Linked DNA regions of Homo sapiens: regions 1 and 2 are each linked to region 3. The links come from fine-mapping of genetic effects on gene expression. A gene starts in region 3. Each other region holds a variant in brackets. All regions are shown on one strand. Distances are between the middles of the regions. Region 1 has its middle 26 kb from the start of GPR35. Region 2 overlaps CAPN10 (calpain 10). Region 3 holds the start of GPR35 (G protein-coupled receptor 35).

What was found.
Region 1: its variant is fine-mapped to the expression of GPR35 in whole blood (INTERVAL, PIP 0.99).
Region 2: its variant is fine-mapped to the expression of GPR35 in gastroesophageal junction (GTEx, PIP above 0.99).

What each region holds. Positions count from the first base shown.
Region 1 is chr2:240,646,233-240,656,605 of GRCh38, forward strand. No RefSeq gene overlaps it. Among named protein-coding and RNA genes, the nearest start is that of GPR35, 26 kb to the left of the region's middle. RefSeq lists a silencer at 10,099-10,148. The variant A/G (reference allele first, on the strand shown) is at 4,659.
Region 2 is chr2:240,595,699-240,606,071 of GRCh38, forward strand. It overlaps CAPN10 (calpain 10), which reads left to right. Exons shown (of 12, transcript NM_023083.4): 8 at 621-823; 9 at 983-1,244; 10 at 2,190-2,389; 11 at 2,654-2,699; 12 at 2,953-3,406. The coding sequence ends at 2,982. It also overlaps a transcript of GPR35 not described here. Among named protein-coding and RNA genes, the nearest start is that of CAPN10, 14 kb to the left of the region's middle. The variant A/G (reference allele first, on the strand shown) is at 4,995.
Region 3 is chr2:240,621,350-240,630,345 of GRCh38, forward strand. It overlaps GPR35 (G protein-coupled receptor 35), which reads left to right and starts at 4,131. Exons shown (of 2, transcript NM_005301.5): 1 at 4,131-4,219; 2 at 8,600-8,996. The coding sequence starts at 8,604. RefSeq lists enhancers at 205-264, 285-424, 3,328-3,477, 4,085-4,591 and a silencer at 8,763-8,996.

The DNA of each region.
Region 1 (10,373 bases), 26 kb after region 3:
AAGCCAGGCTGGAGCTGTCTCTGGACAACAAAAAACAGTCCCTCACCTGGGCCAGGGCTGTTTCTGCAGGTACCTGATGGTGTCTTTCGCTTTGTTTCCTCACAGACGCAGGCTCCTGGTGCTGTCTTCCTGTGACGTTGTCTTCCTGTGACGTTGTCTTCCTGTGACGTTGTCTTCCTGTGACGTTGTCTTCCTGTGACGTTGTCTGTAGCCAGCAGGAGACACGACGGCACGGTGGCGTGCCCGGCTTCGGGCTGGGTGTCCTGGGCGTCCAGGCAAGTGAAGGCTCTTTTCTTCTGGTTGTGCCCCCTTCTGCCAGGGCAGCTGCAAGTAGACAGAGAACACACACCAGTGATGTCAGAGCTGCCCTTTGTCGAACTTCTGCTTTTTCCCAAGGTCTCCTGCAGAAGGTTGTCCATAGCTGGACTGGAGCTGTGCAGCTGGCTCCTTTGCAGCAGGATGCAACACGGAATCTTTTCACCAGACACCCGCGGGGTGGGCGCTCACCAGAAACAAAACCGCCCTGGTGCTTGCTGGGCCACGAGGCCGGGGGTCTGCGTTGGCGGCCGGCAGCCTCTTCTGTAAAGGGCCGGTCGGTGAACGTCTCCAGCCCCCTCAGCGAGGAGACCACGCTGTCGGCGGAGGGTGAAGGCAGCCGCAGACAGCGGAGGATGACACGGACAAAGGCCAGGCTGAGCTCCCGTGACCCTGTTTACAGAAATAGGCAGTGGCCCATCTGGTTGTAGTTTGAGACCCCGGCTCTGTGTGTCCCAACCCAGGAGGGGCTGCCTTGGAGGCTCTTCCCGGCTGCCCTGCATGAGCTGTAGTGTTCATGGAAGCGCGGGAAGAATCTTTGGCCAAAGCCCCGGCTCCCCCTTGGCTCCAGGAAGAGGCAGCCGGAGCCCTGCGCGTGTCCCTGACACCTCGGACCAGGGAGTGGAGGAGGGAGAGTGGCTGGGCTTCCAGGGCAGAAGCAGCACCCCCAGAAGAGGTGGCCCATGAGGAGCACGGGGGGCTTTGGGGTGCGTGGTTCCTCTCGGAGCCAGCGGCCCCTGGTCCCGAGCGAGTGTCCTCTGAGCGGAGGCTCGGGCCCCTGCCCTGGGCGCACTCAATGCCCCGCCCGCTGGTACCCTGAGCAGAGCAGCTGCCGGTGGCGGCGCGGGGCCTCCTGTCACACCCCCTCTGCATGAGCTGGGCTTCGTTGATGGAGCTGGAAGCTTCGCAGTAGCGGAATTTGTTCGTACAGGACCAAGCCCAGCTTTTCTAAGGGCTGGGGTGAAAATAGGAGGGCAATTTAAGTGCCGTTCGAGTTGTGGAAAGGATTAGCTGCTGAGCGTCAGGCAGCAGGCTCCGCGTACGGTCCTGGGCAAGGCCAGCAACGCAGCAGGGGCAGGAAGCTCCGGGCCGGGAACAAACAGGACACGCGCTCTGGCATCTCGGGGGGAAGTCGGCCTGGAATGGGGCAATAGGGGGGTTGGGATGAACTGGAAGGCAGAGAGGGGCTCTGAATTACTGGCGGTGAAAGCCCTGTGTCCGCCCCCTCAGAGGCAAGCATCCCTGTAGGACCATCTGGGGTCCTTGTGAAGCAGGCCTGTGCCCCCACAGGTGATGTGACTTTCGTCTCTGCTAGTGACAAGCTCTGACAGCGCTTGAAGACTGGAGGGAAGTGGACATTGGCGACTGAGTCCAAGTCACACAGCAGCCCCACTGACGCAGCTTTGAGAGCCGTGGCTGCCTGTGCCCCTGCACACGCTGGAGTCTCCAGGCCAGTGCCCACTCTGCCCTGAAGGAAGCAGAATTGTCAGCTCCAGCTGTCACGGGTGTGGCCAGGCAGTGGCTTGGGGCAGAGGTGGCCAGAGAGGGGGTGGGGGTGACAGTTTAACCTCTGAGGTCCTTTCCACACCCAAGACCAGACATAGGAAGCGGGAGGTGAAGGCCACATAACAGGGAGGGTTGTCAGGGATCCTGGAAAGTCTTTGTCACTGTTGTTTTGCCTGGGGCAGGACAGGCTGAAGAGGGGCAGGTGTGACCTGTGAACTCTGCTCAGGGCCCCTGGGCACCTGTTGTGTTAAGGTTAGGGGGGCCTCCCAGCAGAACATCCCAGGGAGATTCACTGGAGGAGAACGGGCCCCACGCCCTTGGGGTCGCAACTGAGTTCAGGGTCCCTGCTGGATGTCCAGTGGCCTGTCCCAACTCTAGGCACCCCCTAAAGCATGCTCTGGGACACCCTGGTCCTGAGAGATGATAGGGTGAGCGGCCTGGGAGAGGAGAGGCACTTTGGGGAAACAAATCTGGGCAGCTGGTTTGCCTGGGGAAGACAGTGAATGGGGCTGGCTTCCAGAGGTACTCAGAAGCCGGTACTGTGGCACCAGGTTTAAGAAAAGACAAGCTTTGCTGTGGGTCAGCAACAAGGAGACAGGATGCAGCTCACATCCATCTCCCCTTCCTGGCCTTAAGGCAGTGCCGTCATTAGGAAAGGTCTGGGGTGGGTTCTGGGATTAGCGGGTGATTGCCGGAGGGAAAGGGGAGGTCTGAAATGTCCCCTGGGCATGTGCAGCTGTGTCTTCGTGCCTCTGCAGGGTCACATGTGCTGATTCAGGGGCAGTGAGTATGAACGTGAGGTGGAAATTTGGGCCGTGATGTCAGCAAGCTGCTGCCCACTCCAGCCGGCCCTTTGGGTCCCCAGGATCTCAGGCAGTTTTATTCTCACAAGGAGGGAATTTCCAGCACGCTGCTGCTGTTCTTACCTGCCGTCATGTGAGCTCAGGAATCCCCGCTGTCAGTCACCGGTCTTTTTAACCCTTCGGGGCACGGTGTCACCTCCCCTCCCCGGCCCCAGCTGCTTCTCCTCCAGAGCTGGATTCAGGACTGAAGGAGGGAGGGAGGCAGCACCGAGGCCAGGTCTCCCACAGGCAATCCCCAGCACCCGCGATGGATGGACGAGGGAAGGATGTTTTGTGGAAACGGTATTTCCCAAACATTCCTAAAAATCAAGTTTTAGTGAGTTGAACATAACTGGTCTTCTAACTACTGTATATTCATCTCTGGGTCCATAGAAGAGAACAGTGTTTCTGCATCTCCCCAGATGTGAGACGGCTCCTATAAAACCCTCACCGAACTTCCCTGGTGCAGGGTCTTAAAAGGCGGCCACACCCAAATAATGTCCTTCCCTTGTCAGAACAGAAGGAAAGGAAACAGTGCCCCCAGGAAATTCACTTCCAAATGAGCTTCGTGTAGAAATCACTACCCCAAGAACTAGAATTCCGTCCAGCTTCAATAGGACCAATTGTGTAATCAACTCACCACCACAGTGGAACCAAAGGAGAGGGCAGGACAGGCTGAAGAGGGGCGGGTTTGACCCCCGTACTCTGCTTAGGGCCCCCAGGCCCCTGTTGTGTTAAGATTAGGATGGCCTCCGAGCAGAACATCCCAGGAAGATTAACTGGAGGAGAAAGAGGCCCCCAGCTGCTTCTCCTCCATGTGAGGAAGATACATATTAGCTCCAACAGGAGGTCCAATATTAGCTCACAAGAGAGGGAAAATGGGTTTCTGACTCACTGAAACTTGCGATTTGGGAAAAAGATCAATGAGAGGGCAGGGGATGAAGGACCTCTGGTTCCTGGATGAAGAGACTTATTAAATAACAATGACACAAATATGCTTCTTGCAGTATTCGGAAATCAAATAATGTGGAAATGGTTTACTAAGATTCACATTTACATAATGTACATTTATAAAACACTACCCTAAAAATTACATTAGGTCTCCATTTGAGATATTGTGTAACCATTTCATAATAACAAAAAAAAAAATAAAAGAGAAAAACATGGAAATTATTTTAGAAGACAAAGTTCTTGCTGTGTTTCTGGATAACTTTATTACACTAATTAACAACAACAAGATAATGTAATTACACTTCCCACTAGTGGGAGGGCATGAAAGCCCTTAATCACTGGGAGTCATGTTTGAGGAACCTGCAGGACATTATAGAAGAATTATAATCTGTTAGATTTCCACTTAAGTCGCTGAATGATCACTCAATAGCCACAAAACTAACAGAGAAAAAAATCAGCATCGCTTTAGTAGAGAGCAAAGCGTCTTGCGGTGGTTCTGGGTCTTTGGAAGTGGGCTCACCGGAAAGTGGGGTCACTCGGAGGCGAGACACTTCTGCTGTCAGGCTGTGTGGACAGCTCTTGGTGTAGGCACATTTCTCTGCTCTTCAGTGGAGGAGATTCTGGGCCAGGGCACCCTCACAGGGGAAGACTCCTAGCAGTGTCTTCCTCCCTTTCTGGAATCTGGAAAAGGACAGAGTCCTCTTCCTAGGAGCTGCACCCCAGAACCCTTAGGACCCTCTAATATGTGGCAAGGGGATGAGGAGAGGATGGAGCTGGGTCAGCAGCACCCTTTCCTGTGGGAGGGTTGGATCAAGGCAGCCAAACTGTAGGTGGTTCCGGGAACACAGGATCCACAGCCTGAGTTCTGGTGCCTGGCCTCTGGGGTGGGCCCACGTGAGGCTCTGGCTCCTGGGCCTGGGATGTGTGGTCCACCCTGGGCCCTGGAACCCAGACCTCACCTGCCACAGCCAGGTGCTCCTGCTCCTCAGGCTTCCATCACCGCGAGGGGCCTCTGGCAGATGCACCCCATGCAGCATCAGGGAC[A/G]TGAGGATGCTCTGGGAATCCTAAACTCCTTCTTCCATAATTTTTATCTCACACGTTGTGCGGTAAAGAATTTAACCTTATCCAAAAAGATGTCTAGCCCTTCCCTTGGCTTCTGGAAGGTCATGTCTAAGCCCTTAGAATGTCATGACTGATAGGAGTGTCTTTGTTTACCTTTGTTTGCCTTGGATAATGCCAGATAGTCTAACAAGGTGATTTAGGGTGGTGGCGGGCCACACTTGATAGTATTTAGGTGGGGGCTAACCACCAGAAAGACCGACAATGTGATTTAGGGTAGGGGCTTTTGGTCACACATCTCAACCTCCTGAGGGCTGGAGTCTAAGGTCAACTATGTGAGCAATCAGTCAGTCAACCAATCAATCAACCATGCCTACATATTGGAGCCCCAGTAAAAACTCTGGGCAGAGAGCATCAAGTGAGCCTCCCCAGCTGGCCGTGCTGCAGGTGTGTCACCACACGTACATGCCAGGAGAGCAAAACTGGCCTGACCACACAGGGAGAGGACAACAGAAGCCTCTTGTTCTCCTGGATTCTGCCCTGTGTGCAGCTTCCTTGGCTGACTTGAAACTGTGTCCTTCTTCTGTGATAAACTGTAACCACACCTATAACAGCTTTCGGTGAGTTTTATGAGTCTTTCTATCAAATTACAGAACCTGAGGGTGGTGTGGGGTTCCTGGAACTTGTAATTGGTGTCAGAAGTGAGAGTGCTCTTGAGGACTGTTTTCTCTGTCGTCACATTTGGCTAAAGCTCTTGGAGTTGGAGTTGGAATTGGAAGTGAAATTCACTAGAATGACCCTGACTCACTGAAACGTGTGGTTTGGGAAAAGGATCAATGAGAGGGCAGGGGATGAAGGACCTCTGATTTCTGGATGGCCATGGGTCACGTGTGGTATGGAGCTGCAGCCCTGCTGTGGTCAGTTGCAGGAGGTAAAAGTTTCCAACAGAATTTGGAAATGATGGATCCAGATCCCCAGGAACTGGCTGGCCGGATGAATAAGGAAATACAAAGTAACAAAAACCAAGCTACATATGCAATCTCTTGGTTATTGTGTTCCCTAAAAGCTAAAACAAAAGTTAAGAGAGGGTGAAAGTAAAAGAGAGATCCTTCATCCCCTGCCCTCTCATTGCTCCTTTTTCCATACCACATTTTTTAGCGAGTCAGGGACATTCTAGTGAATTCCACTTTCAGCTGCAGGAATTTTATCAAACTGTAAAGGCAGAGAAAACAGTCCTCAAGACCACTCTCATTTCTGACAATTACAATGATAGGCTATTACCACGGAGACACAACAGTAGGCTATTAACTACTAACAGCCCGCTGTTGACCCGAAGCCTTACTGATAACATAAATAATTAACACTTATTTGGTATGTTATAGGTATTATAAATTGTATTCTTCCAATAAAGTAAGCTAGAGAAAATAAACTATTATTAAGAAAATCATAAAGAGGGGAAAATACATTTACAGTACTGTACTGTATTTATCAATATCATTAAGTTTTCTGTCATCTGTTTACAAGATGAATTGTCTCTCTGAAATGGCACAACCGCACCTGCAGACCTCAGTACGTATCCAACAATTCAACTTTTTTCTTGTAATGTCATGACTTTTCTCTGCTTCTTGGGCACTTCCAGCATCACTAGTGGCACTTCATATGGGTCCACTGTGAGTTATTGTTTCTGTAAAAGCTGAAATGAAAGCAAGAGAGAGGTTCTGAGCCTGAGCCAATGGGTAGTGAGGCCGAGGTGGTTGCCTTGGGGCCATGACCGATGGGAAGGTTAGAGGGAAAGGTAAGGAAGATGTTGGGCTGAATCCTGACATTGCACCAATCCTGGGTTCTGGGAGGTCCAAGCTATAGTCGCTGGCCTCAGGGCCAAAGGAAAAAGTTGTGTGGAAACAACAGATTGTGGGGAAATTCAGACTGCTTTGCAAAAGAATGAGGAAAGTCAGGTGGGAGAGTGAAGGAGCCCATCCCAGCAGGTGAACATCCTTCAACAGTTATTAAGAAATGGAAAGAACATGGCCGGGCTCAGTGGCTCATGCCTGTAATCCCAGCACTTTGGGAGGCTGAGGTGGGAGGACCGCTTGAGGCCAGGAGTTTGAGACCAGCCTGGTTACATAGCAAGACCTCATCTCTAATTAAAATAATAATAATAAGCCTGGGCGCGGAGGCTCACGCCTCTAATCCCAGATCAGGAGTTCGTGACCCGCCCGACCAACATGGTGAAACTCCGTCTCTACTAAAAATACAAAAATTATCCAGGTGTGGCGGTGGGAGCCTGTAATCCCAGCTACTCGGGAGGCTGAGGCACAAGTATCACTTGAATCCAGGAGGCGGAGGTTGCAGTGAGCTGAGATCACGCCATTGCACACCAGCCTGGGTGACAAGAGCAAAACTCCATCAAAAAAAAAAAAGAAAGAAAGAAAGAAAGAAAGAAAGACAGACAGACATGGGCAGAGCAAAGCAGACATTAATGGGGTTAAAACAACACTCTTACGGCAGCACTCTCAGAAACTGGAACTGCTGGGAGCTCCTGTGTGCCCCAAACTAAAGGGCCTAAACCTATGTTCATCCAGTTTGGAGAAATAGAAAACATTAGAAGGCAAAGGTGACCATGAGCAAGTTGGCCTCCAGTCACCTAGAGTGATGCTCCTGCAATCCAATCAAGATAAGGGCTTGATTGATGAGAGGGTCAGGCATCCTTTGGCCTGACCCCTGGCTGGGGACCCAATGCTATACACCCATGAGTGGGTAAAATGCTCAGGGGATGGAGAAGAAATGTTTCTGGGACTCCTCAACACGAGAGCCCCATGCACTGAGATTGCTCCATGGTGAGCAGGTCAGTGCAAACCTACCCGCAAAGGCCCCAGGAGCTGAGAGGCCGAAGAAAGAAGCTGACAAATACAGCTTCTCAGAAAGAAATATAGAATAGGGACTTATGTGGCTCACGCCTGTAATCCCAGCACTTCGGGAGGCCGAGGCAGGTGGATCACCAGGTCAGGAGATCGAGACCATCCTGGCTAACACGTGAAACCCTGTCTCTACTAAAAGTACAAAAAATTAACCAGGTGTGGTGGCAGGCACCTGTAGTCCTGGCTGCTCGGGAGGCTGAGGCAGGAGAATGGCGTGAACCCAGGAGGTGGAGCTTGCAGTGAGCCGAGGTTGCGCCACTGCACTCCAGCCCGGGCGACAGAGCGAGACTCCATCTTAAAAAAAAAAAAATAGGGACTTATGAACAGAAGCCACGTCTCAAGGGGCTGTGAGCCACTTGCCCTCCAGAAAGCATCTTTTTTTTTTTTTTTGAGATGGAATCTCCCTCTGTCACCCAGGCTGGAGTGCAGTGGTGCAATCTCAGCTCACTGCAACCTCTGCCTTCTGGGTTCAAGTGATTCTTTTGCCTCAGCCTCCCAAGTAGCTAGGATTACAGGCATGTGCCACCACACCTGGCTAATTTTTGTATTTTTAGTAGACATGGGGTTTCACCATGTTGGCCGGGCTGGTCTCAAACTCCTGACCTCAAGTGATCCGCCTGCCTCAGCCTCTGAAAGTGCTGGGATTACAGGTGTGAGTCACTCACATCAGGCCAGAAAGTATCCTTTATCTAGCAAGCTTGTGTGATAGAACGTGTGCAGCTGGTCATATCTTCGGACATTCTTGCCAAGACGTGTGTCCACTGAGCAGGTTAGATAGACGTCTTTTTGAAGGGTTCTCTCTGCTGCAGGCAATGTCTACAGACCCTACTGCAGAACACCTTGGTATGTGGGGATCAAACACTGGTCATCATGGTGTTTTTGCTTCGAGATAAATACACAGCAACAGGCTGTTCTCCTACTGTGATTCCAAACCTGTTGGTGAAGTCTCTGTAGAAGCTACAGCTGGGGTGGGAGGGTGCAGGAAGCAAAGGTTGATGGGATGAAGGTGAAAGTTCCGATGAATATCGGAATGTTTGAGCAGATTTTATGTGATGTGGTTGCACCTGCTGCACCTGAATGTGTCATGGGGGTAGATACTGCATCTGGCTGGCAGATGCTTCCCTTAGGTCACATGTAAAACAGAAGACAGGTGTATTAGTCCATTCTTACACTGCTGATGAAGACCTACCTGAGACTGGGCAATTTACAAAAGAAAGAGAGGTTTAATGGACTTACAGTTCCACATGGCTGGGGAAGCCTCACAATCCTGGCAGAAGGCAAGGAGGAGCAAGTCATGTTTTACGTGGTTGGCAGCAGGCAAAGACAGAGCTTGTGCAGGGAAACTCCCATTTTTAAAACCATCAGATCTCGTGAGACTCATTCACTATCATAGAAAGACCTGCTGTCATCATTCAATCACCTCCCACCAGGTTCCTCCCATGTCATGTGGGAATTGTGGGAGTTACAATTCAAGATGAGATTTGGGTGGGGACACAGTCAAACCATATCAACCATATCAACAGGTAAATCTACCTTTCAGCCAATATTGGCTGGGCATGCTAAATGGAGCCAATAACGTTGTCTAAGCCCACAGAGGTCATTAATTTGAAACAGTATTAAACAGCTGGTGGACAAAAAGGGCTTACCACTTGAATGAATGCCCTGTTAGAAGCAGGAGTGCAGGCACACATTCTCTGTATGGTCCAGCCCTGTGTGAGGCAGACCAGGACTCACAGTCAAGCCTGTGAGCACCATCCAGCAGTGAGAAGTGCGATTTTGGACTGGAAATTTCTGTTTGAGAGACAATTTGCGGGTTACTGAGCTTTGATTAAGACTGTTCCTATGACTGAAGGACATAAAATAACCCCAGAACCTGAAATACCCAGAATGTCTTAAGCATTGCCAGAGAAACACTCCCATGGAGAGGTCAGTGCCCAAAAGAATTCCGGAATAAAATGGAAATTTTATTTAATTTATGTATTCGGGTACAGGTACATGCTCCTGGGGGAAGGTAGGAGGAGCTCATCACCCCATGAGCAGAGCCTCTTTTCCCCGAGGACGGACGTTGGAATCCTCTGAGGAGCTGCCAGATGCTGTCACCATGAAAACAGTGCCCAACGGATCAGCAGGAAGCTGCTTGGTTTATGGACAGCAGGTTCAGGCAGAATGGGGAGCATCCTGTTTGGAAGGCTGTCCCTCTGTTTTGTTTTGTTTTTTTTGTTTGTGTTTTGAGACAGGGTCTTGCTCTGTCACCCATGCTGGAGTGCAGTGGTGTGATCACTGCTCATTGCAGCCTCAGACTCCCAGGCTTGAGTGATCCTCCTGCCTCAGCCTCCCTAGTAGCTGGGACTACAGGCACCCGCCACCACACCTGGCTAAGTTTTAAAATTTTTTTTTAGAGATGGGGTCTGGCTATGTTGCCCAGGTTGGTCTCAAACTCCTGAGCTCAAGTGATTCTTCCTCCTCTGCCTCCCAAAGTGCTGAGATTACAGGCATGATTCTCTGATTGAAGAAGGAAAAGTCAAACTAGCTCAGTGGGCTGACTTGCATGTGGTTTTCCTGTTTGGGTTTTTACTGACTCATAAGGGGTGGCCGGTGACATGGCCATGTGATTGCAGATAGCCAGTGGAAAACTAGTCTATTAAAGAAAGGGCCCCTTGAAAATCACCGTGGGAGTTTCAGGGGTGCATTAAAGTAGAACATGACAATATCCATCAGAAGAACCCCTTCCAGGATCAGAAGGTGATCGGAACTGGCAAATGGGAGTCCTGGTGCATTCACT
Region 2 (10,373 bases), 25 kb before region 3:
CACATCCTCTCCCTGCCTCCCTCAGTCTCTTCCCCTGCAAGACGGGGTCCTGACACGGATCTCATGGGATTGCTCTGAGGCCCAGGCAGTCCCAGGCTCAACCACTGGTTCACAAAGTGTGTTGTTTCCAGGAAGAACAGATGGGGGCGCCTGAGGGCAAAGGGCCTGAGTGTGGGTCGAGGATATGCCGGCTGCTCGCTCAGGGGCTGGGTTTTCATCTTGTGTGTCTTGACAGGGTGTGACACTTGGCACCACACTGTTCCCTGTCCCTTCATGGATGTGGCCCACATGATGTTCCTTTCCTCTTGCAAAAGAAGTTGCTGGAAGGCCCACTGTCCAGCAGCCCCCAGGTTGCCTGGGCCACGGTGCCTTTGTGGGCCCAGCTACAAGGAGGACTTGCAGGCTCGTGTCTGGGACAGATACTGGCGCCAGGGCCAAGTGAAGCCCGGGATTGGTGGGCATCTCTAGCTGGTCCCTGAGAGAGGGTGGAGGGTGCTGACAGGCCTTGGCGCTTTCATCTGTCAACTCCAGAGGCCCTTGTGCTTGCAGCAGGGAGGTCAAGGCCAGGGCGTCTGACCCCGGCCGCTCCTCCACACTGAGCCTCCTGCACGTGCTCACAGGTAGAGAAGCGGCGGGTCAATCTGCCTAGGGTCCTGTCCATGCCCCCCGTGGCTGGCACCGCGTGCCATGCATACGACCGGGAGGTCCACCTGCGTTGTGAGCTCTCACCGGGCTACTACCTGGCTGTCCCCAGCACCTTCCTGAAGGACGCGCCAGGGGAGTTCCTGCTCCGAGTCTTCTCTACCGGGCGAGTCTCCCTTAGGTGAGAGGAACCGCGCAGTGCTGCTGGCTCTCCGAGGCCACAGGCCCTTCCAAGGCAGGATTTGGGCACTTTCCCTCTGTGGTTGGCAGGTGTCCATGTGGGAACTGAGGCCACCGGGAACCTGCTGCCAGCGCCCTCCCATGTTTGTCTTCTTGGCAGCGCCATCAGGGCAGTGGCCAAGAACACCACCCCCGGGGCAGCCCTGCCTGCGGGGGAGTGGGGGACCGTGCAGCTACGGGGTTCTTGGAGAGTCGGCCAGACGGCGGGGGGCAGCAGGAACTTTGCCTCATACCCCACCAACCCCTGCTTCCCCTTCTCGGTCCCCGAGGGCCCTGGCCCCCGCTGCGTCCGCATCACTCTGCATCAGCACTGCCGGCCCAGTGACACCGAGTTCCACCCCATCGGCTTCCATATCTTCCAGGCAAGCTCCTTGCCCCAGGGAGGGAGGGGGAGCAGAAGGGGCCCTCAGAGAATTTGCATCTTGGCCTCCATTGTCCCAACAGAGGGCTCTGGGCTCAGTCACTTGGGCTCCCCCTGCCCTTCGAGGCGCTGCCTAGAACCCGCACAGGGCCCTCTCCCATCTCCAACCTCTCAGAGGCAAGGCCGAAGATGGCCTCTGGAAGGGCCGGGGGCCTGGGAGGTGGGCAGGGCTGATCCAGGCAGGGCAGGTTTCCAGAGGAGGTGGTGAGTGGGGAGGAAGGGAGAAGTTTGGAGAGGACAGGAGGCCGAGGTTGAGACCAGCGGGGGTGGGTCGAGCCCTGGCTTGGGAACGCAGGGGGCTGATGGACTCAGGAGTGAGAGGAGGGGAGGCCCAGGCTGGCTGGCCACAGCAGCCCCTCGGGTGTGAGGAAGTCCACAGTCACTGAGCTCAGCCAGCAGCCCCTTGTCCACTTACCCTGACTCAGAATGACTGTGTCCCAAGGTTCATTCTCTGCAGACATGTGTCCCCTGGAATGCAGGGGCCCTGACGAGGAAGGCACTGCAACCCTCGGTTCACAGTGGGCTGCCTGGGGACCCTTGGACCCTCGCTGTTTGCCCTGGGCCACCGGCTCAGGTCCCCTAGAGCTCTGAGGAAAACACATGCCAGGGCCAGTGGGAGCCCTTGGGGCGGGCTGGGCAGTCACAGGTGTTAAAGCCCCTGATGATGTGACAGGCCTCCAGGCGGGGGCCCCACTGCCGGCACCTTCTGGCAAGGGTGGCCAGGCCTTGGTGAGGAGGCGAGTCCAGTGTCCAGGCCTGGCAGCCCCTCCTCAGAGAAGGGGCTGTATGTGACTCAAGAGGGCCAAGGGCATCCGAGCAGATGGCCCTGGGCTGGGCTCCCTACCCCAAGGCTGGCCCCCTCAGTCTGAGCCTGCGCTTTCCTCAGGTCCCAGAGGGTGGAAGGAGCCAGGACGCACCCCCACTGCTGCTGCAGGAGCCGCTGCTGAGCTGCGTGCCACATCGCTACGCCCAGGAGGTGAGCCGGCTCTGCCTCCTGCCTGCGGGCACCTACAAGGTTGTGCCCTCCACCTACCTGCCGGACACAGAGGGGGCCTTCACAGTGACCATCGCAACCAGGATTGACAGGTGGGGCTCTGGGACTTGGGGGCGGCCAGCTGGAGGCTGGGGTGCTGGAGTCTTAGTGCTCGCCTGTCCCCCCACGTCTCCTGCCTGCCCCTCACCCTCAAGCCCCTATCTGTCCTGGCAGACCAGGGCTGTCCTGCCTACCTGGGGACCCTTCCTTGCTGGTCTGAGCCTGGAAGGAGAGTCTAGTGGGAGGTGGGCCAGGAGCACACAGCCACTTGTGTGACAAGTGCAGTCTGGGAGCGCTGATCTGGTGTCTCTCCACAGGCCATCCATTCACAGCCAGGAGATGCTGGGCCAGTTCCTCCAAGAGGTGTGTATGCAGCCCCGCCAGCCCGGCTCACCTGCCTGGGGCTGCCTGGTGGCCTAGGGTCTACCTGCAACCTCAGGCAGGTGGTTTCTGCCTGGGACGTGAGGTGCCCTTGACTCTTCCTGTGAGAGCCCCGGGCGGTGCCTTGAAGGGCAGGGGGAGCTGAGGCTGCGTCCCATTCCCTGGCTGCACTCGGGGTGGGGTGTGAGAAGGGGCGAGTGCCACCGCTGCCCGGGCCCCCCATCTGTCTTTGCAGGTCTCCATCATGGCAGTGATGAAAACCTAACAGGGTGGCCCCCTGTGCCAGCTCAGGTGACTGGAGCCCGAGGGCCTGACAGGTTCCCAGCAGCTGGGCCGGCCAGCCTTGCACTGTGGGGGCTGGTCCTGAGTCTTGGCCTGCCTCCCAGCCCTGCCAGGAGGCTGCGGCCTAGGGGTCCACGGGAAGCCTCCGTCAGGAGAGACGCAGCCCTGGGGGCCAGCTGGTGCTGCAAGGAAGGGTGGGAAGCTTGCTGGCTTCTGTTGCGCCACTGAGACGGCAGAGACCCCAGGATCCCAGAGCTTCCCAGGATCCCTCCCAGATCCTCTGCTGACTCCATATGGAGGCCTCACACCCAGAGGGTAGGGCAGCAGATCTTCTTTATAACTATTTATTGTTCGAATCACTTTTAGGATGTAACTTTATAAATAAACATGAGCGCTGATGATTTGCAGATCAGTCTTGCTCCAGGTAGTTCCAGGCTGTGCCTGCTCTTGCCAAGCAGGCTGTGGGGAGGGCTGGGTGCCTGCCGAGATGGTGAGGATGAGGATGGCCTCTGGAGGGGCTGGGGGCCTGGGAGGTGGGCAGAGCCAACCCAGGCAGGGCAGGTTTCAGGGGGAGATGGTGAGTGGGGAGGAGGGGAGAAGTTTGGAGGGGCGGGCCCAGGGCATGCCCCAGGCCAGGGGGCTGAGGTTGAGGCTGGCCGGGGCAGGTCAAGCCCTGGTCTTGGGGGACACAGACTGATAGACTGGGGAGTGAGGGGTGGGGAGAGCCAGCGAAGGCACTGCCAAGGCTGTGGCGAAGAAGGACATCTCGGAAACGGGTGTTAGAACCGGAGTTGCGCAGAGGGAGGAACCCCAGGTTCACATGGACTGGGAGCCTTGGATCTGGACGGCTCCTCTGCCTCCAGCCAGGGTTCACCTGCGCAGTGTCCTAGGATTGTTTATTTCCCCAGGCCTCTCTCCCTCGTCCCTCACACCAAATGCTGTGATGAGAGCTGTAGTGTCACTGAACGGTGCAGAAGACAGTTCCAGACATGGGTGGGGAGGGCTGTCACTAAGCCCTTTTGTTTTAGAGACAGGGTCTTGCTCTGTTGCTCAGGCTGGAGTGCAGTGGCATGATCATAGCTCACTGCAGCCTCGACCTTCTGGGCTCAGGTGATCCTCCCTCTTCAGCCTCCCAGGTGGGTAGGAAAACAGGCGCACACTCCATGCCTGGTTAGTTTTTTCAAGTTTTGAATGCTTAGGGGTCTTAGTATGTGGTTGCCTAGGCTGGCCTCAGTGATCCTCCTGCCTTGGTCTCCCAAAGCACTAAGATTGCAGGCATGACCGCCAACCCCAGCTCTAATCCCTTTTAAATTCCATTCGCTTCCTGAGTCCCTTTGTGCCTGGGGAGACCCCGTGTATTGGTCCTTTTTCACATTGCTGTAAACAACTCTGAGACTGGTAATTTATAAAGAAAAGAGGTTTGATTGCCTCAGTTCCGAAGACTGTACAGGAAGCATGGCTGGGGAGGCCTCAGGAAACTTAGAATCATGGCGGAGGGAAAGCAGGCAGTCTGCAGGTGTCTGGAGAAGGAGGAAGAGAGCGAAGGGGAGGTGCTGTGCACTTTTAAATGACCAGATCTTAGGAGAACTCACTATCACCAAAACAGCAAGGGGGATATCCGCTCCCATGATCCAATCATCTCCCACCAGGCTCCTCCAACACTGGGGATTATAATTCGACATGAGATTTGGGCAGGAACACAAATTCAAACCATAGCACCCAGTGAGCCTGATTTGGGCCTTGCTGCCGGATCACGACCATCTCTGGAGTCCTGGTGTCTGTTCCCACTGGGACCTGTGCCGCTGTCCCCCTCTCCACGCCCTGGCCACGCCAAGCCACCCTCCTGACTCACCCACAGGAAGCTGCCCTGGCCCTGGAGCCTGCCCCGTGAGCCCCTCTGCTTGCTGGTTCAATGGCCCTCCAGCAGCAGTGGCTGTGGCAGCTGGGTTCTCGGCATCTTCAGACACGGATTCTTGAGCAGCAGGATGGGGCTCC[A/G]TCTCCCTGCGTGCAGAGCCTGCCACAGATCTCCCTCATCCACTGGCTTCTGTGCTGACTTCGGATGAAGCCAGTGGTGCCGCCTATTGGGGTACAGCAACTCAGGGCGAACAGTGAGGGGCGGCTCACCAAAGAAATACCCCGCAGGGCAGTGCCCAAGCCAGAGGCTTGAGCTGGGTCGGAGCTGCCCTAGATCCCTGGGTTTGTGGGCGGACAGGTCCTGTGCAGGGCGCCTGATGGTGCAGGTTGAGGTGGGACAGTTGGGGTCAAGGTATTTCTCAGGCACAGTGCCTATGAAGGGAAGACAGTTGCAGGGACTGTGTCCATGTCAGGATAGACTGGTGGGGACCCCGTGAAGAGTTCTGGAGCAAACCCTGCCTGCAGGGCCCCACCTGGGCTGGCCAGGCCCTTATGTTGAGCATCCCTTCCCCCAGGCCCTCAGGAGCCACTGTCCCCGAGGCAGGCCCTGAAGGTGGCGGCCACACCCTCCTGCTGGGCAGCTCTGCCCAAAGGCCACAGCCAGGACCTGCTTCCCGCGTCCCAGGCTACTGCCTGAGAGGAGGCCTCGAAAGCGCAGGGTTCCGTGACTTTAGAGGCCATGGTTGGCACCCATCATCGCCCCAGTGTAGATTGGCTCCACTCGACCTGGCTGCTTTGGCCATTTGGTCTACCAGCTGGAACCATGTTCCTGGGTGTGGAAAACGCTCCCTCCGAAGCCTGCGGAGAGCCCTGAGGCCTTGTGCTTCCTTCTGATGGGAGGTTCCAGATGCAGTTGGAGGGGATGTCTGGCAGGGCTCTAACCCCCAGCCAACCTAAACATTTCTGGTGCAGAAGGCCCCGGCCTGGTGTTGTTTGTCCCTGGCTGCCTCCTGCTCTGACACCATCAGCATCCTGTTGCCAAGGTCATGGATCAGTGCGGTGCTCTTCAGGGTGTCCGGCCAGCTGGGGTCTCTGTCCTGTATTCCGGCAGAGGCCCCAGGAGAAACAGCAAATGCCTTTGTCCATTCCATACAAATTTCATATAAATGTGAGCAGCTTCTGATCTTCCGTGGCGTATTCGTCCAGTTGATGGCCAACCCTGGGTACCTGGACCTCCAGGACCTGCTGCACTGGGCTGCCCCTCGGCTGTGTGTGCACTCGCCACGTGGCCCTCCAGGAATCCCATCCCACGGGGCCACACTGAACCAAATGGAGAGAGCAGGGCCACCACCCTCTCTCCGCATGCCACGGCTGCTCTGGGACCCGGGCAGGAGGGGACAGTCTTGGCCTTCCAGTGTCCCTCTTGGCCTTCCCACGGCCATCTCTACCCCAAGGATGCAGCAGAGATATCGGTCGCTCCCCAGGTGTCAATCCCAGTCACAGGCTCAGAGACCGGGACATGGCCCCGGGTGGGTCTGTAGGCCCTGTGGGCTCATGTGAGCTGGTCCTGGGCAGGACTCCATTATTAACTGCCTGTGATGTGTCCCACTGTCATGGAGCCCTGGTGACTCTTGGGGACCAGCATCAGCTTGGGGCCTGTGTGCTCAGTGGCTCCCAGATGCCTGGATATTCTCTTCCTGGTGCACATAGTCCCCGGGGAGGTCCTTGTCATGCACACTTGCTGATGTGGGGAGTGTCCTTCATCTTGCAGGCCTGGCCACCTCTTCAGTCAGCAGATACCTGGGCTGAAAACCGACTCGGGCAGTGTGGGCCCAACTGGGGCTCTATCGGAGTGACCACCCTCAGCCCTCCTGGACCCCTCTGCCGGCTCCACCTGAGCGCTGCCCTCGCTGGCAGCCCTGCCTTGCTCTGCTGCCATTCCGTAAGCCCTGCAGGCAGGCCCCTTGGCGCCCTTCAGCCGTGTTCATGATTGTCTCCTGGCCTCTGCTGTTTAGAGGTCTAATGCCCTCCGCCCCCGGCGAGCCAAACCCAGTGATGGTGGTTCCTGCCACCAGCTTCCTGTGGCACCGCTGCCACTCCCGCCAGGCTCCTGGGGCACCGCCACCACTCCCGCCAGGCTCCTGGGGCACCGCCGGCCACTCCCGCCAGGCTCCTGGGGCACCGCCGCCCACTCCCTCCAGGCTCCTGGGGCACCGCCGCCACTCCCGCCAGGCTCCTGGGGCACCGCCGCCACTCCTGCCAGCCTCCTGCGGCACAGCTGCCACTCCCTATTAACCAGCATGGCACAGGTGAGCGGTGTGACCTTGGTCTTCCCAGGGAACCAGTGCTTGGCAGCTCACACCACACACGCCTACGCCTACCCTCCACCAGCCACAGCAGTTGTGGCATCTCTACCCTGCCCAGCAAAAGTGGAAGTGTTGCCTGTGCCGCTAGGAACCTCCAGGTTTGCTCCACCTCCAGGGGCCTTGCCAGGGTGTCAAACCTGTGTCTCGGGACACTGCTGTTAGGTCTCCAGCTTCCCTATCAGGCGCCTCAGCACCCAGTCCTACCAGTGCTCCCGCCTCCCGTCCCCAGCTGGCTGGGCCTGCAGCCCCCTCCTGTGCCCCGAGCTGGCCGGGCCCGCAGCCCACTCCCTGGTCACTGGATGTTGCTGACACTTCACTCGGTCAGAGCCCTAGCACCCAAGGGGGGCCAGGGCCTGACGGGGGTGGAGCGAGGGGTGGGCCGCGTCTGTGCAGGCTCAGAAGCTTCCTAAGAGGCTGGAGAGTGGAACCTTCAGGCACCACGCACTGCCTCCTCCCTGCCCACGGTCCTGGTTTCTCCAGATGGGGCCTTGGCCTTGGCTAGGTGTTGATCAGGAGCTGGGAGTGCTGCGCCCCGCCCAACTTCTCCAAACTCCAGCCAGGGCACCTCAGTGAGGCCTCAGCCACCTGCGCCTTATTTGCTTCCTCCTTGGAGGCCCTCGTGTCTGTTCATTCATCAAACAGCAGCTGGGGCCCCCAGCAGACCCCCTTCCCCAACTTTCCCACTGGACACTGGAACCAGTTTCACAACTGGACTGGACAGGACGACCACCTTGTGCCAGGCGCCAGCTATCTCCCCTGACCAGTGATGGGTCCTCATTGCCCGTGGGCCGTGAGTGACCCAGTTCCAAATCCCAAATTAGTGACTCTCTTCTCCAATGGGGGTTGGATTCTCCAGAAGCAGAGGCAGACATAGAATTTGGGTGCAAGGTATTTCGGAGGGAAGGTGGAAGAGGTGGGGTTGGTGAGGGAGAAGCCTGGAGTGTCGGTGGCCGGGGTGCCCCCACCTGGCTGAAACGCCTGGTCTTTGTGCCCTGCCTGGCTCAGCCTCCCCAGGCAGACTACCCCATGGCATCCCTGGACAAGGCTGCCCCCAAGAACGCTGCCCACAGCCCAGCCATGGGCCTTCCCTTGGGGCTACCGCCCCGGCTCACACCTGCTGGCCAGCGTATTTACTCCTTGCTGGCTGCACCCTCTCAGCAGTGGCTGTGTAGACCATAACCCTGGGAACACCTGCGGGGAGAAGCGCCCTTGGCCTGGCGGCTTGGGGGAGACACCTGGGGTGTCAGGAGGGAAGGAAGGCAAGCAGGGGTGAGGCACTGTGGGACTTTTCCTGCTTTCTGGGCCAGTGGCCACAGGCCACCCAGTGACATTTCTCTCTCAGCGTCTGCTGGGGTGGACTCTGCAGCGGCTGCAGCCAGCCTGGATCGGCTCCTCGCACAGCTCTGCTTGAGGGTGAAGGCCATCTAGAAACCCTCAGTCCCCTCTCAGCCTCAGAGCTGATAGCGCTGCCTGACCATCAGCAAGCTTGTAATCAGCACCACCTCCAGCATGCCTGCTCCTGGATCTCCGTGAGGCTCCCCTGCCTGTGTCACCCAGGGGCCTCTAGGGGTGCTCTGGAGCTGGGAGCCACTGTCCAGCACTTCCTGCCCTCTCCGGCCTCTCTTGGCTGTCTGCCAAGCAGTCACTCAGTCTCCTATTGACCACTCGTTTTGCCGCAAGGCTGCTGGTTTACGTGAAAATAGAGAAAGCCAAAGAGTTTCCTCACCCCTGTAAGATTTACTGGCTCTTCTGGCATTGCACCTGCCTGAGTTCCTTGGTGGGGCCCCTCTTTGAGTTCCTTTGGGCTGCTGTAACAAAGCACCATAGCCTGGGCAGCTCGTAAACAGTGGAAATGCGTTGCTCTTTGTTCTGGAGGCTGCAAGTCCAAGATTGAGGCACTGGAAGACCTGGTGCCTGGTGAGGACCTGCTTCCTGGTCCAGAGACAGCACCTTCTCTCTGTGTCCTGATGTGGTGGAAGGGCAAAGGAACTCCCTGGGGCCCGTTTTATGTGGGCACTCATCCCATTCGTGACGCCTCTGCCTTCATGACCTCATCACCTACCAGAGGTCCCCACCTTTTCATTCCTCACCTTGGGGATGAGGACTTCAGTATGTGAATTTCGGGGACATAAATGTGTCATCTATAGAAGGGCCCATCTCTTACACAAATGCTGGGTCCCCAGTGGCCTGTGTCCTAGCAAATGAGAGCCACCCTGAAAAATAAAATCCTGTCTCCCCAACGCCAGCCCTGGCAAGGCACCCAGAACTCTCCGGAATGCTTGAAGGCAGGGCCTGGCCTTTCCATGGGGTCCAGGGCTGTGGGGTCCCTGGCGGTACTGTGGGCCTGCAGAGTGGGGCATGTGGGCTGAAGACCGTCTCCCCACCATGGTGGGAAGGGACAAAGGGTGGCCCTGGCAGATCCGGACGGGCAGGACTGGGTGTGTCCCATGAGAGCACCTCCTTCCTGGCCTTTCCTGTGGACTTTGTCCCACACCACCTGCCTGGGTTCCTTCCTTTAGTCACTTCCAGCTCCAGGCACAGCAGTTGGTGACTCCTTGGTGGGAGCCGTGTCCCACCCGGTCCTGATACTGCCGTCTTCTCTTTCACAGTCCTCCAGGCTTGGGCCAGCCTTGGGGGCAGCAGAGCTTCTGGGGTGAGTGTCGAGATCCTGTGTCCTGAGAGCGGTAGTCAGGGAGAGGGCTGGTCGGGGCAGGGCTGCCCGGGCAGGACACAGGATGCGGCCGGCCAGGCTGGGGCCAAGGTGTTCAGACCTGGACTTTGGGCTCGTGCTTTCTTCATGGTTGCGCCTTGCTCGCTGTCCCTTGGAGTCTTCATTTGGTTTTGCTTTTTTTGTTTGTTTGTTTTCACCTAATTTTTGCCAGACTTAAGCTAGTTTTGCTGCCTTTTGAAACTAGTGGAAGAATCATTTTATTCCTGGGGATAATTTGGGGCCTTTTGATCCCAACGTGAAGCCCTGCACATGGCTGCTTCATCAGGGGAAGGGTCTTTTCTGCTTTGGAGGAAAGGCTTTGGCAGGCAGGCTGACCTGGGAGTCTCCGGAGCTCTCGGCTCTCTGTAGCATCCTGGGGAGCTCAGACCATGGCTGCAGGGCTCTGGCCATAGCTTGCAGGCCATCTGGTTAGTGCTGCCCCCC
Region 3 (8,996 bases):
GTTCAAGCAATTCTCTTGTCTCAGCTTCCCGAGTAGCTGGGACTACAGGCACGCGCCACCACGCCCAGCTAATTTTTGTATTTTTAGTAGAGATGGGGTTTCACCATGTCGGCCAGGCTGGTCTTGAACTCCTGACCTCGTGATCCCCCTGCCTCGGCCTCTCAAAGTGCTGGGATTACAGATGTGAGCCACTGCACCCAGCCAATGTGTTGTTTTAGTAAACCAAAACTATGCAAAGGACGCATGAGGATCCAAGCGACTCATTTAGGATGGCAGCTTCACTGCAAAAGGAGTCTCGATTCAGACCTCAAGACATGCTTCGTGGGTCTCACTCAGGAAGGAAGTGGAGGCAAGTCAGAATGTGGTGAGAAGAGAGGGTTTATTGAAAGTTGCTCCATTACAGAGCAGGGTGTCGTCAGAAAGCAAGAGGGGGAACACCCCAGCTTTAACTTTTTCTCATACAGGGGTCTCGTCTGTGTAAAGACTAAGCTAAACTGTGCCTAACATGTATTATTCTATTGATTTAAAGAAAACTGTCTGTCACGGGGTCTTGCTCTGTTGCAACCAGGCTGGAGTGCAGTAGCACGATCTCAGCTCATTGCAATCTCTGCCTCCCAGGCTCAGGTGCTCCTCCCGCCTTAGCCTCCTGAGTAGCTGGGATTACAGGCATGCACCCCCATGCGTGGCTGATTTTTTTTTTTTTTACTTTTTGTAAAGATGGGGTCTTGCTATGTTGCCCAGGCTGGTCTCAAACTTCTGGGCTCAAGCCAACCTCCCACCTTGGCCTCCCAAAGTGCTGGGATTAGAGGCCTGAGCCACCGCGTCCGGCCAAGGGTAGTTGTCTGGAAAGCATATATTGTTCTGGATACCAGGGCACTTGGACACTTTGCTGTCATAGAAGTGTGTCCACGCAGGCGTCACTGGCTGCTGCTTTAGCTGTAAACATCGTATGACCATGGGCTGTGGCTGGCAGGTATGTGCCTCATTGGTCTCAAGGTGGAGCTGAACGTAAACGGCTTTTCTCTGGCTCTCCCAGGCTCCTGCTTCCCTGACATCGCCTCACAGACTTCCCTTCAAAGCAGGGCTGTCCAATCTTTTGGCTTCCCCGGGCCGCATTGGAATAAGAAGAATTGCCTTGGGCCAAACATGAAATACACTAACACTCACGATAGCTGATGAGCAAAAAAAGGTCTCTGCGTAAATCTCATAATGTTTTAAGAAAGTTTACAAATTTGTGTTGGGCCACATTCAAAGCCCGCAGCCCGAGTGTTGGACAAGCTTGCTGCAGAGGCTCCCCTAGATAGGGCTGCAGGGGTGGCGTCCGGCAGCTCTAGCTGGAGAAGCAGGAGGAGGGGCAGGAAGGAATCCTGTTCGGAGCTCCTCGCGTCACACATACAGCCCAGCGGGGTGAAGTGGGAGGGGCTGGCGCTGCTGCAGGGGGCTAACCTTGGGGGTGAGGGGGCAGCCTCGGAGAGGAAGCTGCCCAGGAGCAGAGGCTGGGGGCGGAGGGCCCCGGGCAGTGCCCCCGTGCCCACAGCAGGACCCTGGCTGCCAGTTCTCCGCAGAGGGCCAGGTGGTCTGAAGCTGCCCAGCAGGGAGAGAACAGGCCTGGCCTGGACTGGAAACCTGCCATCTGGCCTCTCGAACCTGGGGACTCCGGGTGTCCTCGAAGAAGGGCCTGAGCAGCAGCAGAGGACCCCAGGCGACCGTGCCTGAGCCGGGCGCCGACGACGACTGAGCACCTGATATGTCCCCGGCACTCGCAGCCCCGCGGCCGGAGTCGCTGTGGGTGAGCGGTCGTCGAGCTTCACAGAGGCCGGGCTCTGTGCCAGGGCCCCGACAGGGCAGGAAGCAGATAGAGTCCCACAAGCACAAGCCCAGTGCGCAGAAAGGGTTACTTAAAAAATAAGTTCTGTGATAAAATCAAACAGGGTGAAGGGCTGGAAACAGGTCATGAGGGCGCAAACAGGTCGTGAGGGCGCAAACAGGTCGTGAGGGCGCAAACAGGTCGTGAGGGCGCAAACAGGTCGTGAGGGCGCAAACAGGTCGTGAGGGCGCAAACAGATCGTGAGGGCGCAAACAGGTCGTGAGGGCGCAAACAGGTCGTGAGGGTGCAAACAGGTCGTGAGGGCGCAAACAGGTCGTGAGGGTGCAAACAGGTCGTGAGGGTGCAGCTTTGGGGAGAGAGGGGCCCTGGGGGTGAGCGGGGAGCTAGGAGAGAAACAGCGCTCTGGAGGGGCCCGGGCAAGGCCTGCCTGAGTGGGAGGGGGCAGAGCACGAGGGCCCAGGCTCCAGGCTGGGTGGGACTGCCCTGAAGTGCCTGCGGAGACAGCCAAGGGGCAGATGGAGAGAGGTAGGGGGTGGGCTGGGGACAGCGTTTCCTGTACACAGGTGGAACCTGGTGGCAAGGGGCCCTTCCCAGAGACAGTCAGAGTCTCTAAATGTCCAGTTTCTTCCCCAAGTCCACACAGCCCAGAAGAATCCGCTGGGACCATGTGGCCCTGCCCAGTGGGGCTTCCCTTCCAGTGTGTGAGGAGCACAGGTGCCAGGCCACGTCAGGGAGGCCAGGCCTGGTGGGGACGGGGTGCCCCAGGCCACTGCTGGGGAGGAGTGATGCCCAGCAGAGGGGGCACGGTGGAGTTCATGGCTGGCCTGGTGGTGGGGGGGGTGGGGGAGCTCTGCAGGGCCCTGGCTCTGGTGGGCTGGGTAGGCCTGCTTGGGGCACCATCTGATCTGCCAGAGGTGGAAGGAGCACTCCTGGGAGATGCCGTGCCCTGCACCTCCAGTCCCTGCTTGACGGCGGCCGGGCTTGGACTGATCAGGTGCCGTGCCTTCTGCTGACCCCAGAGGCCAGACCCTGTGGCCAGAGTGAGGGATGGATGAAATCCCAAATCTGAGCCTCCTGCCCGAGGATGAGGCCCCTCTCCAATGAACATCATGGCCCATGGAGACTGGGCAGGGAACCCAAGGGCGCACACTGGGGACTGGGCCTGGAGGGACAGCCGGGGAAGCAGGAGGAAGGGCAGGAAGGACAGCAGGAGGAAGCAGGAAGAAAGGGACAGGAACCAGGCCCGGGATGACAGCAGAGAAGGACCAATGCCCAGCCAGGGCTTCCTCACGTGCCTCTGGGTAGAGAGCCCTGGTCTGGCTCAGGAGGCCCAGGCACTGGTCTCAGACCTGCCACCACCTGTGTGACGCTGGGCCAAGCGCTTCCCTTCCCTGGGCGTCCGTTTCCACCGCTGTAAAGTGGGGAGGGGTGAAACTGAAGCTCTCCCCAGCCTATCCCAGCCGTTGAGGAGGGAGAGGCTGTGGTCAGGGGCTGTGGGGCCCACGTTGAGGAGACGAGGCTCCTGCCCTCAGGGTGGACAGGGCCCAGGAAGGGGGTGCTCTGCACCATGGGGGCGCAGCCTGGGCCTACGGGCTCCCCCACCATGAGCTCAGAAGGAAGATGTCCGCTGAGGAGTTGGGGGCCAGGGAGAATATTCTAGACCAGATAGGGGTGGTCTGGGTAGGCTTCTGAGGGGGTGGGCTTGGAGGAGGGGCCGGTGGCCAAGTCGGGGGGAAGCAGGGGAGGAGCCAGCCTGCCTGCGTGTGCCTCTCACCTGTGTGCATTGGCGTGTGCATGTGTGTGTGCATGTGTGCCAGCGTGTGTGTGTGTATTGGAAGGCGCCCACGGAGCGTGTCTGCATGAACCAGGATGAGTGTGCGTGCTGCACCCTGTCTTGGGGCTGGGCATGAGGCGCTGGGGAGGGCGAGCTGACCGCAGACCCTGGGAGGGCTGGGCCCTGGGAAGGTTTCCGAGATGACAGGGCAGAAGTGGGCTGGGGAGGAGGAAGGCTCCGTGGGCGGGGCTGGAGCGTCTCTGGTTTTGCTGTCTGTCTCTCACGCTGTTTCCAGAACAAATGTGTGCCCTCAGCAAGGATGCTGGCTCTTCAGAGGTGTCAGCACAGGCAGCCGGCACCCCACTTCCCTCCCAGAAATCCCCCACGCCCTCTAGCTGGGGCTGGTGCAGGAGCAGTGGGGAACTCCTGTTACCCCTGACCTGCTGCCGTCAGTCAGCCGCCCGCCCCCCCACCTTAAGGAGGGGCAGAGTCAGGGACCAGCCCTGAGGGGTGGCTCACCCCAGCTTCACTTCCCCCAGCCCTTCTCAGACAGCCACTGTGCAGGCTTTGGCAGCGGGGGTCACACACTCCACCCGGGAGGCCAAAGCTGCCTGCAGGTCAGTGCCGCCCACTGCCCTAGGGGCCTCCCAGCGGGGCAGGGGCATGGTGGGGGTCTCAGAGTGGGGTGAGGCTGTGATGGGGTCTCAGAGCAGGGTGAGGCTATGATGGGGTCTCAGAGTGGGGTGAGGCTGTGACGGGGGTTCTCAGAGCGAGGTGAGGCTGTGACAGGGTCTCAGAGCGGGGTGAGGCTGTGATGGGGGTCTCAGAGCAGGGTGAGGCTGTGATGGGGTCTCAGAGTGGGGTGAGGCTGTGATGGGTGTCTCAGAGTGGGGTGAGGCTGTGATGGGTGTCTCAGAGTGGGGTGAGGCTGTGATGGGGGTCTCAGAGTGGGGTGAGGCTCTGATGGGGTCTCAGAGTGGGGTGAGGCTGTGATGGGTTCTCAGAGCAGGGTGAGGCTGTGATGGGTTCTCAGAGCAGGGTGAGGCTGTGATGGGGTCTCAGAGTGGGGTGAGGCTGTGATGGGGTCTCAGAGTGGGGTGAGGCTGTGATGGGGGTCTCAGAGTGGGGTGAGGCTGTGACGGGGTCTCAGAGCGGGGTGAGGCTGTGATGGGGGTCTCAGAGCGGGGTGAGGCTGTGATGGGGGTCTCAGAGCGGGGTGAGGCTGTGATGGGGTCTCAGAGCGGGGTGAGGCTGTGACGGGGTCTCAGAGTGGGGTGAGGCTGTGATGGGGGTCTCAGAGTGGGGTGAGGCTGTGATGGGGGTCTCAGAGCGGGGTGAGGCTGTGATGGGGTCTCAGAGCGGGGTGAGGCTGTGACGGGGTCTCAGAGTGGGGTGAGGCTGTGACGGGGTCTCAGAGTGGGGTGAGGCTCTGATGGGGTCTCAGAGTGGGGTGAGGCTGTGATGGGGTCTCAGAGTGGGGTGAGGCTGTGATGGGGAGTCTCAGTGAGGTGAGGCTGTGTTGGGGTCTCAGGTGGGCTGAGGCTGTTGGGGTCTCAGGGGTGGCTGAGGCTGATGAAGACTTGGAGCCTGTGTCTGGGTAGCAGCTTGTTGGAGTGTGGGATGTGACATTTAAAAACAAGAATGAAGAATACCCCGTGCTGTGGCCCCGAGGTGAGCAGCTACTTTGGTGAACTCGTGTCACTCACAGCCCCATCCTGGGTCCTGGGGTGTGGTGTGCTGTGTGGGGCCCAGGCCCAGTGGGGTCACAGGTACGGGGGACTCTGGTGCCTGGGCCACAGGGATCTGCACCTCACTGCGTGCCCCCACGTCTTCAGCAGTGGTTGGGGCCTGTGGTCTCAATCCCAGGCCAGCCAGGCACTCTGGGGTCTGGGCGGGTCCCGGGTCCAGACAGGGGGAAGGGCTGGGGAGGGGCTCTGGTGTGGCTGGATCGCCCGTCTATGGCCAGGTTTCTCTCCTGGATCACTCAGTGCAGAATCAAAGGGCACTTTTCTGCTTTTGTGTGCAGAAGCCGAGGGTGACCTTGTCATCAGAAGGGGAAGCGGGGCCTCAGAGGCGTGCTGCTGGCTCCAATCCCCAAAGCCTCCTGGGCAGGAAGTGGAAGGGCCCCATCCCCACGGTCCCCGGCAGCGGGAGCTCCCTGAGGCTGATGGTGCTGGTGTCTGTCGAGGAAGACAGGCCTGAGGAGCTGAGGCGGGAGGCCAGCTACGGTCCACGGCCTGGACACAGATTCCTGTGCGGGACTGGGGCAGTAGGTGGGCATCTGTGCTGGCCATGTTAGCTCCCAGGGGCCCCATGCCATCTGGGCTAAAGCCTGGGCCTTGATTTCCTGAACTTTTCTGGGAGGCACTCCACGGGCGAGACAAGGACCCATGAACAGGGCACTTCTTCGAAGCCTACGTGCACCTCGAAACTCTTGCAACATTTGCATTTTTCTCCCTAATAGTTCAGTGTTTGTTTTATTATAAACAGGAAAATTTAAATGTTGTAGTTAGAGTTTTTTTCTTCTTCTTAGAGATGGGGTTTCACTCTGTCTCCTAAGGCTGGAGTGCAGTGGTGGGATCATAGCTCACTTCAGCCTCAACCTCCTGGGCTCAAGCCGTCTTCCTGCCTCAGCCTCCCGAGTAGCACGCATCACCAGCCCAGCTAATTTTCTGTCTTTTTTTTTTTTTTTTTTTTTTTTTTTGTAGAGACGGGGTCTCCCTGTGATGCCCAGGTTGTTCTTAAACTTCTGGCCTCAAGTCATCCTCCTGTCTCAGCCTCCCAAAGTGTTGGGATTACAGGCATGAGCCACCGTGCCTGCCTGCAGTTAAACATTCCCCCACAAAATACTGGGCCACACCGAGGCTAGTATGAAAGTTGCAGCCCTGGGTATGTGTGACCTGAGAGCCCCTTGGCAGCCATGGGGAGCGATGGGGGAAGCTGGGGCAATGGGAAGGGGTCTAGGCACACGAGCCCTCGGGTCCTCACCTCCCACGAGGCAGGGTCCCAGGCTGCCTCTACTCAAGGTGGGGCAGCAAAAGAATCGCCCTCTAGCTGTGCAGACCCCCTCCCCCTCCAGGTCTGCACACCGCCCAAGGCTGGCCCTGGACTTCTGGTGGATTCAAGTACTCAGGTGGGGAGAGTAGGAGGCCAGTCGCACGGAGCCCTCCCCAACGCACAGTGCCTGCCCAGCTCAGGTGCCTCTGAGGTGTAGATTCTGAGCAGGTTCTGGGATCTCCTGGCCCCCAGCGGGGGCTGCCACAGGAGTATAGGCCCAACAGGAAGGGAAGATCCCAGCGATTGGTTCCAGTGGGTTCTGGGGATGTCCTCGGAGCCTGGCCTGGCTCAGGGTCCCTCCAAAAGTCCCTGGAACGAGGGTGAAGTGTTGCTCATGAATCAGAGAGAAAGCAAGCAGGACCCTCAAGAAGGGAGGAGAGAGACCACTGGGCGTGCAGCACTTTGCACTCGGGGGAAGGGCTCCTGAAACTTGGAAGTCAGCAAATATCTGCTGTACTTCACCAGAGGTGGGATCTAAGGAGACAGAATGAAGCCAGGGGGCAGAATGTTTCGTTTCTGTCTGAAACCTGTGCCCTCCATCCCTCATGGACTGGGGACCTGGAGTTCCCGGGGACCACCGTGGGGAAATGCGTCCCAGCACTAATGGTCCCCAGCAGCTGCAGTCACGGGGTTTGGGCGCTCTCCCCTCCTGATTTGGGGGACCTTTTGTGCTCCTCTGGGCAGAGGGAGGAGGCAGAGGGAGGAGGAAGGCCCTTCGCTGTGGGCTGAGTCCTTCCCACCTTCCATACCAGCCCAGCAGGAAGCCACTGCAGGATGCCCCAGAGGACAGCCTGATGGTTGGGGGAGAGGCTTCTCCCGCCCTCACCCCTCCGGGTTCTTCCTGGACCCACTGAGTAACCCAGGTGGTGGGACGTGTGGCTGTGAGTCCTGGACTCTGGGCGCTCACCAGCAGCTCCGTCTCACACCTGCCTGCGTGTGACACCAGCACCCCTTATGATGAGGAAACAAGTTTGCCCAGCTGCAGGGGTGGCCGAGTCAGGATGACTCTAGCCCGTGTCCTGGACACCAGACCCTGCCCAGGTCCAGCCGGGGCTGGTCTCAGCCTTCCTGGGCTATGTCGCGGAGGGTGTTGGGGACAGCGAGAGGCTGGCGTGGACAGTGGAGGGGTGACTTTGTGGGTGGTCCTGATAGTGACGGAGAGGAGGATACTCAGCTCCACCCCTGGGCGGCCCCTGAGCAGCACGACTGGGCCTGAAGGGGCAGGGCTGCCGTCACAGGCTCTGGCCCCTGGGAGCTCAAGGGGTGAATCCCTGATCCCAGGTGTGGGACTGGGATGGGGCCTCAGGCTGATGCAGGCAGGACCTCCAGAGCTCAGGACTGGGTGGGTGGGCTCACAGGGAGGTAGGGGCAGGCCAGAGTCCCAGCTGTCCTGGACTCTGCTGTGGGGAAGGGCTGATGCAGGTGTGGAGTCAAATGTGGGTGCCTCCTGCAGCCGGGTGCCAGGAGGGGTGGAGGGGCCACCCTGGGCTTTGTCCGGGAGCCTGGTCTTCCCGTCCTTGGGCTGACAGGTGCTGCTGCCTCTGAGCCCTCCCTGCTAAGAGCTGTGTGCTGGGTAAGGCTGGTGGCCCTTTGGGCTCCCTGTCCAGGATTTGCGCTCTGGAGGGTAGGGCTTGCTGGGCTGGGGACTGGAGGGGAACGTGGAGCTCCTTCTGCCTCCTTTCCTGCCCCATGACAGCAGGCAGATCCCAGGAGAGAAGAGCTCAGGAGATGGGAAGAGGATCTGTCCAGGGGTTAGACCTCAAGGGTGACTTGGAGTTCTTTACGGCACCCATGCTTTCTTTGAGGAGTTTTGTGTTTGTGGGTGTGGGGTCGGGGCTCACCTCCTCCCACATCCCTGCCCAGAGGTGGGCAGAGTGGGGGCAGTGCCTTGCTCCCCCTGCTCACTCTCTGCTGACCTCCGGCTCCCTGTGCTGCCCCAGGACCATGAATGGCACCTACAACACCTGTGGCTCCAGCGACCTCACCTGGCCCCCAGCGATCAAGCTGGGCTTCTACGCCTACTTGGGCGTCCTGCTGGTGCTAGGCCTGCTGCTCAACAGCCTGGCGCTCTGGGTGTTCTGCTGCCGCATGCAGCAGTGGACGGAGACCCGCATCTACATGACCAACCTGGCGGTGGCCGACCTCTGCCTGCTGTGCACCTTGCCCTTCGTGCTGCACTCCCTGCGAGACACCTCAGACACGCCGCTGTGCCAGCTCTCCCAGGGCATCTACCTGACCAACAGGTACATGAGCATCAGCCTGGTCACGGCCATCGCCGTGGACCGCTATGTGGCCGTGCGGCACCCGCTGCGTGCCCGCGGGCTGCGGTCCCCCAGG